Regions from separate parts of the Homo sapiens genome. Here region 2 is linked to region 1. Evidence: fine-mapped QTL for protein levels in blood plasma. A gene starts in region 1. The other region holds a variant in brackets. All regions are shown on one strand. Distances are from middle to middle. Region 1 holds the start of PLXNB2 (plexin B2). Region 2 overlaps PLXNB2 (plexin B2).

The links. PIP is the posterior inclusion probability: the model's chance that the variant is causal. Protein levels are from antibody-based Olink assays in UK Biobank. Linkage for the fine-mapping came from a reference panel and not from the study's own genotypes, which makes the PIPs less certain.
Region 2: its variant is fine-mapped to the plasma level of the PLXNB2 protein (UK Biobank, PIP above 0.99). The variant lies in the coding sequence of PLXNB2. If it changes the protein, the assay may bind it differently, which can mimic a change of level.

Annotation. Positions count from the first base shown.
Region 1 is chr22:50,305,034-50,310,388 of GRCh38, reverse strand. It overlaps PLXNB2 (plexin B2), which reads left to right and starts at 2,743. Exons shown (of 37, transcript NM_012401.4): 1 at 2,743-2,836. It overlaps DENND6B (DENN domain containing 6B), which reads left to right. Exons shown (of 20, transcript NM_001001794.4): 20 at 1-1,359. RefSeq lists silencers at 1,672-1,721, 2,422-2,471, 2,632-2,831, 2,842-2,911, 3,432-3,582 and enhancers at 4,131-4,500, 3,890-5,089.
Region 2 is chr22:50,281,458-50,286,812 of GRCh38, reverse strand. It overlaps PLXNB2 (plexin B2), which reads left to right. Exons shown (of 37, transcript NM_012401.4): 9 at 526-640; 10 at 715-823; 11 at 912-1,013; 12 at 2,148-2,240; 13 at 2,600-2,681; 14 at 2,823-2,980; 15 at 3,063-3,211; 16 at 3,368-3,476; 17 at 3,627-3,763; 18 at 3,932-4,102; 19 at 4,500-4,629; 20 at 4,732-4,959; 21 at 5,071-5,247; 22 at 5,314-5,355. Among named protein-coding and RNA genes, the nearest start is that of MAPK11, 14 kb to the right of the region's middle. RefSeq lists an enhancer at 3,497-4,696. The variant A/G (reference allele first, on the strand shown) is at 2,834.

The DNA.
Region 1 (5,355 bases):
CAGACAAGACGCGGAGGCAGCCGGGAGGGTGACCAAGGGGAGCTGTTAAGCCCCAGATGTCTGGTGCAGGGTCCAAGGATGTGACCACATGAAACAGAACACATAGAGGCCGAGGTGGCAAACCTGTTCTGTGGCAGGGACAAGCCGGGGACCCGAGGGTGAGAAAGGTCCTGGCCCCAAATGCAGCTTGGGCCTCCTGACTGTAGCACAGGGGGACCAGCCTCCCCACTGAGGGCTTGGTCTCTAGAGGGTCTGCAGAGATGCTGGCACCTCTTGTGTGGGCAGCTTGAATGCTGACCTCCATAAGATGGGGCCTGGGGGGCCAGTACAGGCCCTGCCATCAGCTGCCCTCCACCAGGGCCCTCTGCAAAAGCCTTATGCTGGTGACCAGCCCCCTGAGGACCACCACTTCAAGGTGTCGGGGCAGCTTGGGAAGACAACCCACCTCTCTCACAACTGTGACCCCACTTTGGGGAGCGCACCCCAAGGACCGTGGCAGCATGTGCTTCCCCACAGCACAGTCTCGCCTCACTTGGCTTTCTGAGGGCTGCCGCACAGCACAGAGGGCTGCAGACCCACATGGCTGCAGGGGAGGGGCTTCAGGCTGGTCTCTGAGGAGCCCCCAGGGACCCTGGCCACTGTGTATCCAGAAATGCACAAGCAGATTTCCCTGGAGGGCTCTGGTGAGGCCACATAGTGGCGTGTGAAGGGGGAACTTGAGGGGGGAACCGGGCTGGGTGGCCAGCATTGCCCTGGGCAGAAGCTAAGGCTAAGGTGGGGGGTAGTGTCCCAGCCCCTCTTCCTCAGGGCCTGTCCCCACCTGTGCAGAAGAGGCCTGGGGTGGAATGTGGCCTGGGGTGGATGGGTGGGGGCTGGGCGTGGAGACCTGCCAGCTCCATCTGTCCGGATGCCTCTTGTGGCCCCCCCAGTGTCAGGGCCGCTCTGAGTTGGCTGAGCCTCTGTCCAGGGCTAGGCCATGGCCCTCCCCGCCCCACGCACTCCAGGCCAGGGGCAGTCAGTGAAGAGGCAGGAAGGTCCAGACAGCTCTACCCCTGGCCAGAGTGCCAGCCCCCGCAGGCAAGAGGGCTTGCTGGGCAGAACTTAGTTGGCGAGGGTGAGGACTGCTGTGGTCACAGGCCTCCCGAAGGACAGGGACCACAGAACCTAGAGGGTGGGAAGGGCTGGGAGCAGGTCTGGAGTGGGGCTCGGGGCTGAGGGTGCACACAGGGGGCCTGCTCAGGGACAGGAAGGACAGCTGCTCACCCTCAAGCTTCCTGCTGGCTATTTAAAGACTCCCTTTTAGTCTAGAACAGTGGCCTTCCCACAGTTTTGGTATTAAAATGTCCTTTTGTGACTGGACCTTGTCTTTTCCTTTTTTGATAAAAAGTTGGCAACCTTGTCAGAACCTGGTAATTTTGGGGTCCTCTGCAGTGAAGGGTAGGGTTGCCGTGATGTGGATTGTGGTTCAAGGCCCAAGGGAAGATTTTGGACAGGAACAAGGCCTGGCTGCTTGAGGGTGGGAGAAGGCAGAGACTGAAAGAACTAAGTCAGGCTGGGGGAGTTTGTCAGGATGTGGCGGGGCGGATCCCGGGTGGGGGAAGCAGAGGAGGAGGGGATGCCTGGCTGGGGACAGGAGGAAGCTGACCAGCTGCAAGGACGGGGCAGGTCTGGGTGGAAGGCGGGCCCCAGGGAGGGGTGACCCAGGGTGGGGGCAAGAGCTTGGGGAATGCTTCTGTCTCCTGCTCAGCACATCCAGTTCCGGGAGGGCAGTGGAGGCGTGCTCCAAGGTCTGGCCCTGCAGACGGTTCACCACCTCTTCTCAAGCCCAGGGGACACTAGGAGCACTGAGGCCAGGACTTGGGACCTGGGATGCCAGAAGTGGGGCCAGCTCTGTCCCAGAAACCAGAACCCCCAGAAAGAGGTCTCGGCCCGCCCACCTCCTGGCCCTGAAGGACCAGGTGGGGTCCCGGGTGCAGCATCCCAAGGTGCTGCTGGAGGCCAGGGATGTGCTGGGAGGCCATCTCCAGGTCCCAGTTTACCCTGGGAGGTTGAGGGCCTGAGACCCCTGGGAAAGGGCCAAAGCCCAGCAGCCCCCACCCCTGAAGGCCGCAGGGGAGCGACTGGTATGCTTCCAGTCTGGGAGTGAGAGTCTGGTGCCCACACATCTCAAGACTGGCAGGGACCCTCACGTTCCTCTGGCCAGGCGAGAGTGCACTCATAATGCCCTCCCCTGGTACCAAGCCATGGCCTCCCCTCAGACCTGCGGGGTTCCTGTGGGGGTGCTCAGGCCATGGGGCCTCTGTGGGCGCTCGTGCTTCCTGGACGGCGGCATGGTGGGCAGGGTGCTGCCCTGGCTGAACCTGGGTCTGAACTGGGGTGCCTGAACCTACCAGACAATGCTGTGGCCGCTGGGCAGGGGAGAAGTGGGGGGCGCGGGGAGCGCAGGCCCAGCCCCTCCCCTCCCGTCCCCTCCCCTCCTCTCCGGTTCTCTTCTGCCCTCTCCTCCCCGCTCCTGCTCCCCCTCCCCTCCCCCTCCCCCTCTTCCCCCTCCCCCTCTCCCCCTCCCCCTCTTCCCCCTCCCCCTCTCCCCCCTCCCCCTCTCCCCCCTCCCCCTCCCCCTCCTTCTCCCCCTCCGCTTTCCCTCTCCCTCTCCCCCCTTCTCCTGTTCTCCCCGCCCTCCCCTCCTCTCCCTCGTCGGGGGCGGGGCCGGCAGCTCCCGCGCGCTCCGGCCCCTCCTCGGCCACACAAAGGCCCCGTCTCCATGGCAGCAGCGCGGGCCAGAGCGCAGCGCCGAGCGCGGCCCGGGCGCCATCGAGCCTTGGCGGCGGACGTGCAGGTACCGAGCTCGGGGGACTGGGCTGCGGGGGACGTCTCGCTGGGCGTGGGGGGGGCTTCGCCGTCAGCGCCGCTCCGCCCGGGCCTGCCGCGCTGGGGCCCGGGGACCTGCGGCGGCTGCGGCTCCGCGGAGGGCTCCCGGGGCCTGGGCCCCGTCCGTCGGTCCATCCGGCGAGGCCCGGGCCGCTGCCGCCCCACTCCCTTCCCGGTGTTGACTCGGGGGACGGGCCCGGCGGCGGGGGCTGCGCGTCCCTCCGGAGCCGCGTCGGATCCCTCCTCCGCGCCTGCCTCTCACTCTTCAGCCGCCGAGCTCCGTGCGCCGAGCGGAGATGGTCTCGCGGTGCGGGCGCTCCGGGCCGGCCCCAGGCTCAGCGGCACAGGAGCCTGGATTTGCCCGAGCTCCCGGGGGCCGTCCCCGCACCCCCTGGGGCCTGCTTGGCGCGGGGGGACCAGGGCGGAGAGCACCCGCACCTGGCGAGACCCCACTGCCTGGGCCTCCTCGCGGTTCCCAGAGTGGCGTCTGGGTGGACACCCCGAGACACAGAAAGTCTCAGAAGCGGGGGCGCGAGCCCTGCCTGTCCCCTGCTGACCCTGCCCCTCCGCACCCTGCTCCTGCAGGAAGCCCCTGCCCTGCCAGCGCCCCTGGTCGGGCTATTCGGCAGATCTGGGGAGCCCGCCTCCCCCTGTCATCTGGGGGTCTCAGAGCCCGGACGCCCTGGGGCTTCCTGCCAGGCCCTTGATTTCTCTTCCCGAAGCTCCCTGGGAAAGGAAGAAAGGGGTCCGTCTGCCCACTGTGGGCTGTGGCAGAGTCAGGACAGGGGGTGAGGGTGAGGGTGAGGGTGAGGGTGAGGGTGAGGGTGAGGGTGAGGGTGGGCCCCAAACCCGGCAGATCCCGGCGGCCTGGAGGGCTCCCTGTGCCCCACCTTCCCTGGACCCCCCCGCCCTCCCCACTTAATGTCTGACTTCGGCCCTTGCTTGGAGGTTCGGCGCAGCCTGTGAGGCTTTAAAGTTGAGCTTCCTCAGGAGCCCTTTGCGGGTGGGAGAGCGAGGCTGCCGGGAAGTGGGGGCTCTCAGCCTGCCCCATGCCCAGATGACCCTGGCACGGAACAGCTGAACAGCTGGTGGGAGGAGCCCTCCCTTTCCTGTCCAGAGGTGAGGGTCTCCCGGAGGGCAGGGCCAGCAGGCATAGGTTTGTGGCGAGTCAGCTTTTTGCATGTTGCATAGAAATCCCCAGAGCCGACTGAGAAGCAAGCAGGTGGGCCTGGCACATCTGAGTCCTCCCACGGTACCTATGGGGGGCCCACCTCTGTCCCGGGGGGTCTGGGAGGCCTGAGGTCTGGCCAGGGGTTCCTTGCCCCAGTAGAGGAGGGAAGTTACTGAGAAAAACAAGGGTTTGGAATGTGAGTCCCCCTCCCCCACCGGCTGCCTGCCAAGAAAGAATTATTTTGGATCATCCAGCCGTGTCCAGTCACCCGAAGCGGGAGGCTGCAGCGTGGGAGAAGGATCCACTTCCGGGACGTGGGTTGAGGGCCCCAGGAGGAGGACGGGCAAGTCCGGGCAGCTCTGCCACTTTCTACTGCAGCTGCCCAGACTGGGCGGGGAGAAGATGCGTCACCTTTGGGTTGGAGAAAGCCCCAAGGTTGGCCCCAGCAGGCCCTGCTGAGCCTGCAGTGGGCCCAAGCCCCTCTGGGGGAGACCATGGAACAGGAGGAGCTCTGGGCCCACCCAGGGACCCCCTCGCCCCACCCAGGGACCCCCTCGCCCCGAGAAGTCTCAATGGTGGTCTGAAGAGCCTCTGAGGTACCCTCCAGGCCCAAGTTCAGGGACACACCCTGTGCCAGTGACCTGTGCGTGCCAGGGAGGAGCAGGCAGGAGCGAGGCTAGGCTGCTAGGGAGGGCACTGGGGTTTCCCTCAGGGGGCCCTCCTGCCCCAACGGACTCCCTATTCAGCTCCTGACTAACGGACCAGCCTCCCTCCAAGCCCCTCCGACAGCCAGTCCTTGCCTACGACCCCCTCTGGATATGGCGCCTGTGAGCCCATCCTGCAGGTGGGGAGACTGAGGCCAGAGATAGGTCTATGTGAGGAGTCATCTGCGATGCTGTGTGGCCAGGGCTGTGGCTACCTGGCGCTCTGGGTCCATGCTGTGTGTGCGCCCGGGGTGTGTGCCCGGCGGCCTGCATGGGGACCACATCGGGGAGGAGGAGCCGGCAGCTGGCCCCAAGTGCAGAAAGCCCAGAGCCTTGGACCCGGCCCAGGGAAGTGGAGCAGAAGAGATTGGATTGGAAGGTGGTGGGGAGGGCCCATATGGCACAGTCCTCCTCCCATCCCAGGACGTCGTCCGTGCTCACCGTGTCCTGCCCCCTGCCTCACCCTGTGCCAGCCACAGCTGATGGTCCCCCTGGGACGCGGGCGTGGGCAGGGGTGCACTGGCTGGGAGAGGCTGTGTCTTCCGGCCCCTCATATTGTGCCTTCTCTGAGCTAGGCAGGCACTTGGATGCCAGGCCTCTGCCACGAGGGCT
Region 2 (5,355 bases), 24 kb after region 1:
TCGTCTCGGCAGACGCCCCTCACCCCTTCCTGCCATGTCCAGCTTCAGAGAGCAGGGCCGTTCCCAGAGGCTGCAGGGCCTCGCATGTGGGCCAGGGCAGGCGTCGCGCCCATGTCCCCTGAGTTTTGGGGGCAGTGGGGCCACGCAGTGACGTGGGCAGGGACCTGGCAGGTCCCACTCAGACTCCAAGGAGCCGCTGCCCTCAGTGCCTGCGGGAACAGAGGGTATGAAAGCAACCTGGACCCGGGGGAGAAAGGCAAGCCCGGTGCTGCGCCCGACACCCGAACCAAGATCTGATAGCAGGTGGCAGGTCCAGCCCAGCGTGAACGGGCGTCCTGGCAGCCCCACCCGAGATCTGATAGCAGGTGGCAGGCCCCGCCCAACATGAATGCGGGGCGTCCTGGCAGGGCCCCCTGAAGACCAGGGGTCTCCACCTTGGCCCCAGGAGTCAGCCCCAGGGGAGGCCCAGCCTGGCCCTCGGCCCTGCGGCCGCCACCTTGACACCTCCCCCTCTGCTGTCTGCAGACCACGTGGCCGTGACCATCCAGCTCCTCCTTAGACGAGGCAACATCTTCCTCACGTCCTACCAGTACCCCTTCTACGACTGCCGCCAGGCCATGAGCCTGGAGGAGAACCTGCCGTGAGTGTCTTGTGCCCATCGACCCCACCCTGCCCGTCCACCCCAGCCCTGCTCACGATCCCCTCTGGATGCAGGTGCATCTCCTGCGTGAGCAACCGCTGGACCTGCCAGTGGGACCTGCGCTACCACGAGTGCCGGGAGGCTTCGCCCAACCCTGAGGACGGCATCGTCCGTGCCCACATGGTGAGGGGCCTCGGGGCCTCAGGGGACTGTTCAGGGCATGGCTGCTCCGCTGTGCCCAGGCAGCACCTGACCAGCCTTACTCTCCCAGGAGGACAGCTGTCCCCAGTTCCTGGGACCCAGCCCCCTGGTGATCCCCATGAACCACGAGACAGATGTGAACTTCCAGGGCAAGAACCTGGACACCGTGAAGGTGCGGAGGGAGGGGTGCCGGCTGGTGACAGGCAGGCTCAGGTGCGGAGGGAGGGGTGCCGGCCGGTGACAGGCAGGCTCAGGTACGGAGGGAGGGGTGCCGGCCGGTGACAGGCAGGCTCAGGTGCGGAGGGAGGGGTGCCGGCTGTGACAGGCAGGCTCAGGTGCGGAGGGAGGGGTGCCGGCCGGTGACAGGCAGGCTCAGGTGCGGAGGGAGGGGTGCCGGCTGTGACAGGCAGGCTCAGGTGCGGAGGGAGGGGTGCCGGCCGGTGACAGGCAGGCTCAGGTGCGGAGGGAGGGGTGCCGGCCGGTGACAGGCAGGCTCAGGTACGGAGGGAGGGGGTGCCGGTTGGTGACAGGCAGGCTCAGGTGCGGAGGGAGGGGGTGCCGGCCGGTGACAGGCAGGCTCAGGTGCGGAGGGAGGGGTGCCGGCCGGTGACAGGCAGGCTCAGGTGCGGAGGGAGGGGTGCCGGCCGGTGACAGGCAGGCTCAGGTGCGGAGGGAGGGGGTGCCGGTTGGTGACAGGCAGGCTCAGGTGCGGAGGGAGGGGTGCCGGCCGGTGACAGGCAGGCTCAGGTGCGGAGGGAGGGGGTGCCGGTTGGTGACAGGCAGGCTAAGGTACGGAGGGAGGGGTGCCGGCCAGTGCTGATGGGTGTGTGGGAAGCCTGAGCTCCACCCGTGCCCCCCGACTCGGGGCCCCCACATGAGGTAGAGGGCACAGGATTTATCGGGGACAGAGGCCAGGAGGCAGCACTCGGGGGCCTTTGGATGGGCCTGAAGAGAGGCAGTGGAGGAGGCAGGCGTGTGGAGATTGAGGGGCCAGTGCCACCTCCTGAGGAGGGAGCTGTGGGGGCCACGATGTCAGGTGGGCCGGGCGATGTTCTCAGGTGTGGATGAGTGGTGGAGGTGGCCGTGGGAAACCCACAGAGGACGTTCAGAGGCTTCTGCAGACACAGGTGTTTGGGCTCAGGAGTGGCCGAGGGGTCAGCTGGCATGGTAATCTGAGGGGCGGGCATGTGTGGGGTGAGGAGAGGGCTCCCACACTGTAGGCACAGAGGAGGGGCTGCAGGGGTTCTGGGAGGAGGGCCAGGGTGCCACAGCCGCCTGTCCAGGGTCCTGACGGCATGGTCTGCAGGGTTCCTCCCTGCACGTGGGCAGTGACTTGCTCAAGTTCATGGAGCCGGTGACCATGCAGGAATCTGGGACCTTCGCCTTTCGGACCCCAAAGGTACGGCTCCAGGGCAGGCCGGCTCGGCTGCTGGACCCCAGGGCCCCGGGTGGGGTGGGGGGTCACCTTCAGGACTGTGAGGGGAGGGGCAGCAGGGAGACCCCAGGGACCAGAGCCCAGCCAGGGGCTCGCCATGCCCTGTGCTGCTGGGGAAGCCCCCTCTGCCCTCTGCCTCCCTGGGGACAGAGTGGCACAGAGCAGCGTCCATGGGGTTCCCGAACTTCCGACACCTGAAGGCCTCCCCTGCTGCCCTTGGCTGGGAAGGGACCCGGTGGCCACAGGGAGGCTGCCCTTGTGACCCCCGCCCCACGCCCCTCTGTGGGGGCAGGAAGTGCAGTGTGCCCCTGCGTGTCCCCCAGCTGTCCCACGATGCCAACGAGACGCTGCCCCTGCACCTCTACGTCAAGTCTTACGGCAAGAATATCGACAGCAAGCTCCATGGTGGGGGCCACGGGCGCAGTGGGGGGCGGGCAGGGGACGGGTGGGCACAAGGCGGTGGGTGGGGGGACAGGTGGGCGCAGTGGGGAGCAGGTCGGGGGCGGGCAGGCACGGGGTGACCACTGACGGCAGCTCTCCCCGCAGTGACCCTCTAC[A/G]ACTGCTCCTTTGGCCGCAGCGACTGCAGCCTGTGCCGGGCCGCTAACCCCGACTACAGGTGTGCGTGGTGCGGGGGCCAGAGCAGGTGCGTGTATGAGGCCCTGTGCAACACCACCTCCGAGTGCCCGCCGCCCGTCATCACCAGGGTGAGCCCCTCGAAGCCTGGCCTACACCTTCCCTCGTCCCTGGCATGAGCCCCTCCCTGCTCACCCGGCTCTGTGGTTTCAGATCCAGCCTGAGACGGGCCCCCTGGGTGGGGGCATCCGCATCACCATCCTGGGGTCCAATTTGGGCGTCCAAGCAGGGGACATCCAGAGGATCTCTGTGGCCGGCCGGAACTGCTCCTTTCAGCCGGAACGTTACTCCGTGTCCACCCGGTGAGTGGACGGCCCTGGTCTGGGCCCTGTCAGCTGGGTCAGTACCCACGCTGGGGTTCCGGGTGACTGGGTGGGTGGGGAGGCTGAGGGGGTGAGGGTGTCAGGGTGTGGGGTGGGTCGGGGAGTGCCTGGGCCACACTGCCTGTCGCCCGCCAGGATCGTGTGTGTGATCGAGGCTGCGGAGACGCCTTTCACGGGGGGTGTCGAGGTGGACGTCTTCGGGAAACTGGGCCGTTCGCCTCCCAATGTCCAGTTCACCTTCCAAGTAAGCACCCGGCCTCGGGGACCTGCCGAACCCGGGAGGACCGGGAGGAGGGGCTCTGCCCGCCGCCTCCCCACGACAGTTACCATCCAGCCCAGGACCGAGGGCGTCCTGTGCCCCGTCCTCACCCGAGTGCCCCTGCGGCTCTTTCAGCAGCCCAAGCCTCTCAGTGTGGAGCCGCAGCAGGGACCGCAGGCGGGCGGCACCACACTGACCATCCACGGCACCCACCTGGACACGGGCTCCCAGGAGGACGTGCGGGTGACCCTCAACGGCGTCCCGTGTAAAGTGTGGGTGTCACCGCCAGCTGCTGAGTCTGGTTGGCCCTGGCCCTGGGTATGGAGGGGGGCACTTACTGAGACCTGAGTGGCCCTGAGGGGATGGCGGGGCCAGCCTGGTCGGGCTGGGGCTGGTCCCGGGGGAGGGGTTGATGCAGACCAGCACCCTCCCTCCCCCAGGACGAAGTTTGGGGCGCAGCTCCAGTGTGTCACTGGCCCCCAGGCGACACGGGGCCAGATGCTTCTGGAGGTCTCCTACGGGGGGTCCCCCGTGCCCAACCCCGGCATCTTCTTCACCTACCGCGAAAACCCCGTACTGCGAGCCTTCGAGCCGCTACGAAGCTTTGCCAGGTGAGGCTGGTGTCCCCCCGCCCCCCTCTGCTCCCCACACCCAGCTGCCTCCTCAGTGCCCTTGGCTGACTGTGCTGAAAGGAATGTGGTGGGGCTGGTCTGTGCAGCGGGAGGCGGCCTCCGGAAAACCCCACTGCACTCCAGATCCACTTCCTCCTAGAAACCCAGATGGGCACACCAGAGGCTCCACGCTCACCAGGCCCCGTGTGCCCCCCGCCCACTTGCGGCACAGTCTCGTGCTCAGCACGTCCCACCGCGTTGCCCCTTTGCCCACCGAGACCCACACATGCACCTGGAAGCCCCGTGTGGTCAGGGCCAGGGTGGGCGGGGACGGGAGGGCGGAGGCTGCAGGGACCACCCCTGCCAGCCGAGCCCACGAAGGCACTGCCCTCCGCAGTGGTGGCCGCAGCATCAACGTCACGGGTCAGGGCTTCAGCCTGATCCAGAGGTTTGCCATGGTGGTCATCGCGGAGCCCCTGCAGTCCTGGCAGCCGCCGCGGGAGGCTGAATCCCTGCAGCCCATGACGGTCAGTCCTGGCGTGGGCTCAGCTCTGGCACCGGCCCATGGGATCGTGCCCAGGAAGGGCGGGGTCTGCGCCCGGGGGCTGACAGCTGGGACTTGCCTGCAGGTGGTGGGTACAGACTACGTGTTCCACAATGACACCAAGGTCGTCTTCCTGTCCCCGGCTGTGCCTGAGGAGCCAGAGGCCTACAACCTCACGGTGCTGATCGAGATGGACGGGCACCGTGCCCTGCTCAGAACAGAGGCCGGGGCCTTCGAGTACGTGCCTGACCCCACCTTTGAGAACTTCACAGGTGGCGTCAAGAAGCAGGTCAACAAGCTCATCCACGCCCGGGTGAGGACGGTGCAGCCCCGGGTGTCTGGGTCCTGCTCGGGTCTGGGCTGAGAGCTGGTCCACCTGTCCCTGGTTCCCTCCTCCTCACCCCGACCACTGCCGCCTCCCCAGGGCACCAATCTGAACAAGGCGATGACGCTGCAGGAGGCCGAGGCCTTCGTGGGTGCCGAGCGCTGCACCATGAAGACGCTGACGGAGACCGACCTGTACTGTGAGCCCCCGGAGGTGCAGCCCCCGCCCAAGCGGCGGCAGAAACGAGACACCACACACAACCTGCCCGAGTTCATTGTGCGTGAGCGGGGACTGGCGGGGGGTGCCCCCACGGGACCGCGCTGAACCCGGCCCCCCACACAGGTGAAGTTCGGCTCTCGCGAGTGGGTGCTGGGCCGCGTGGAG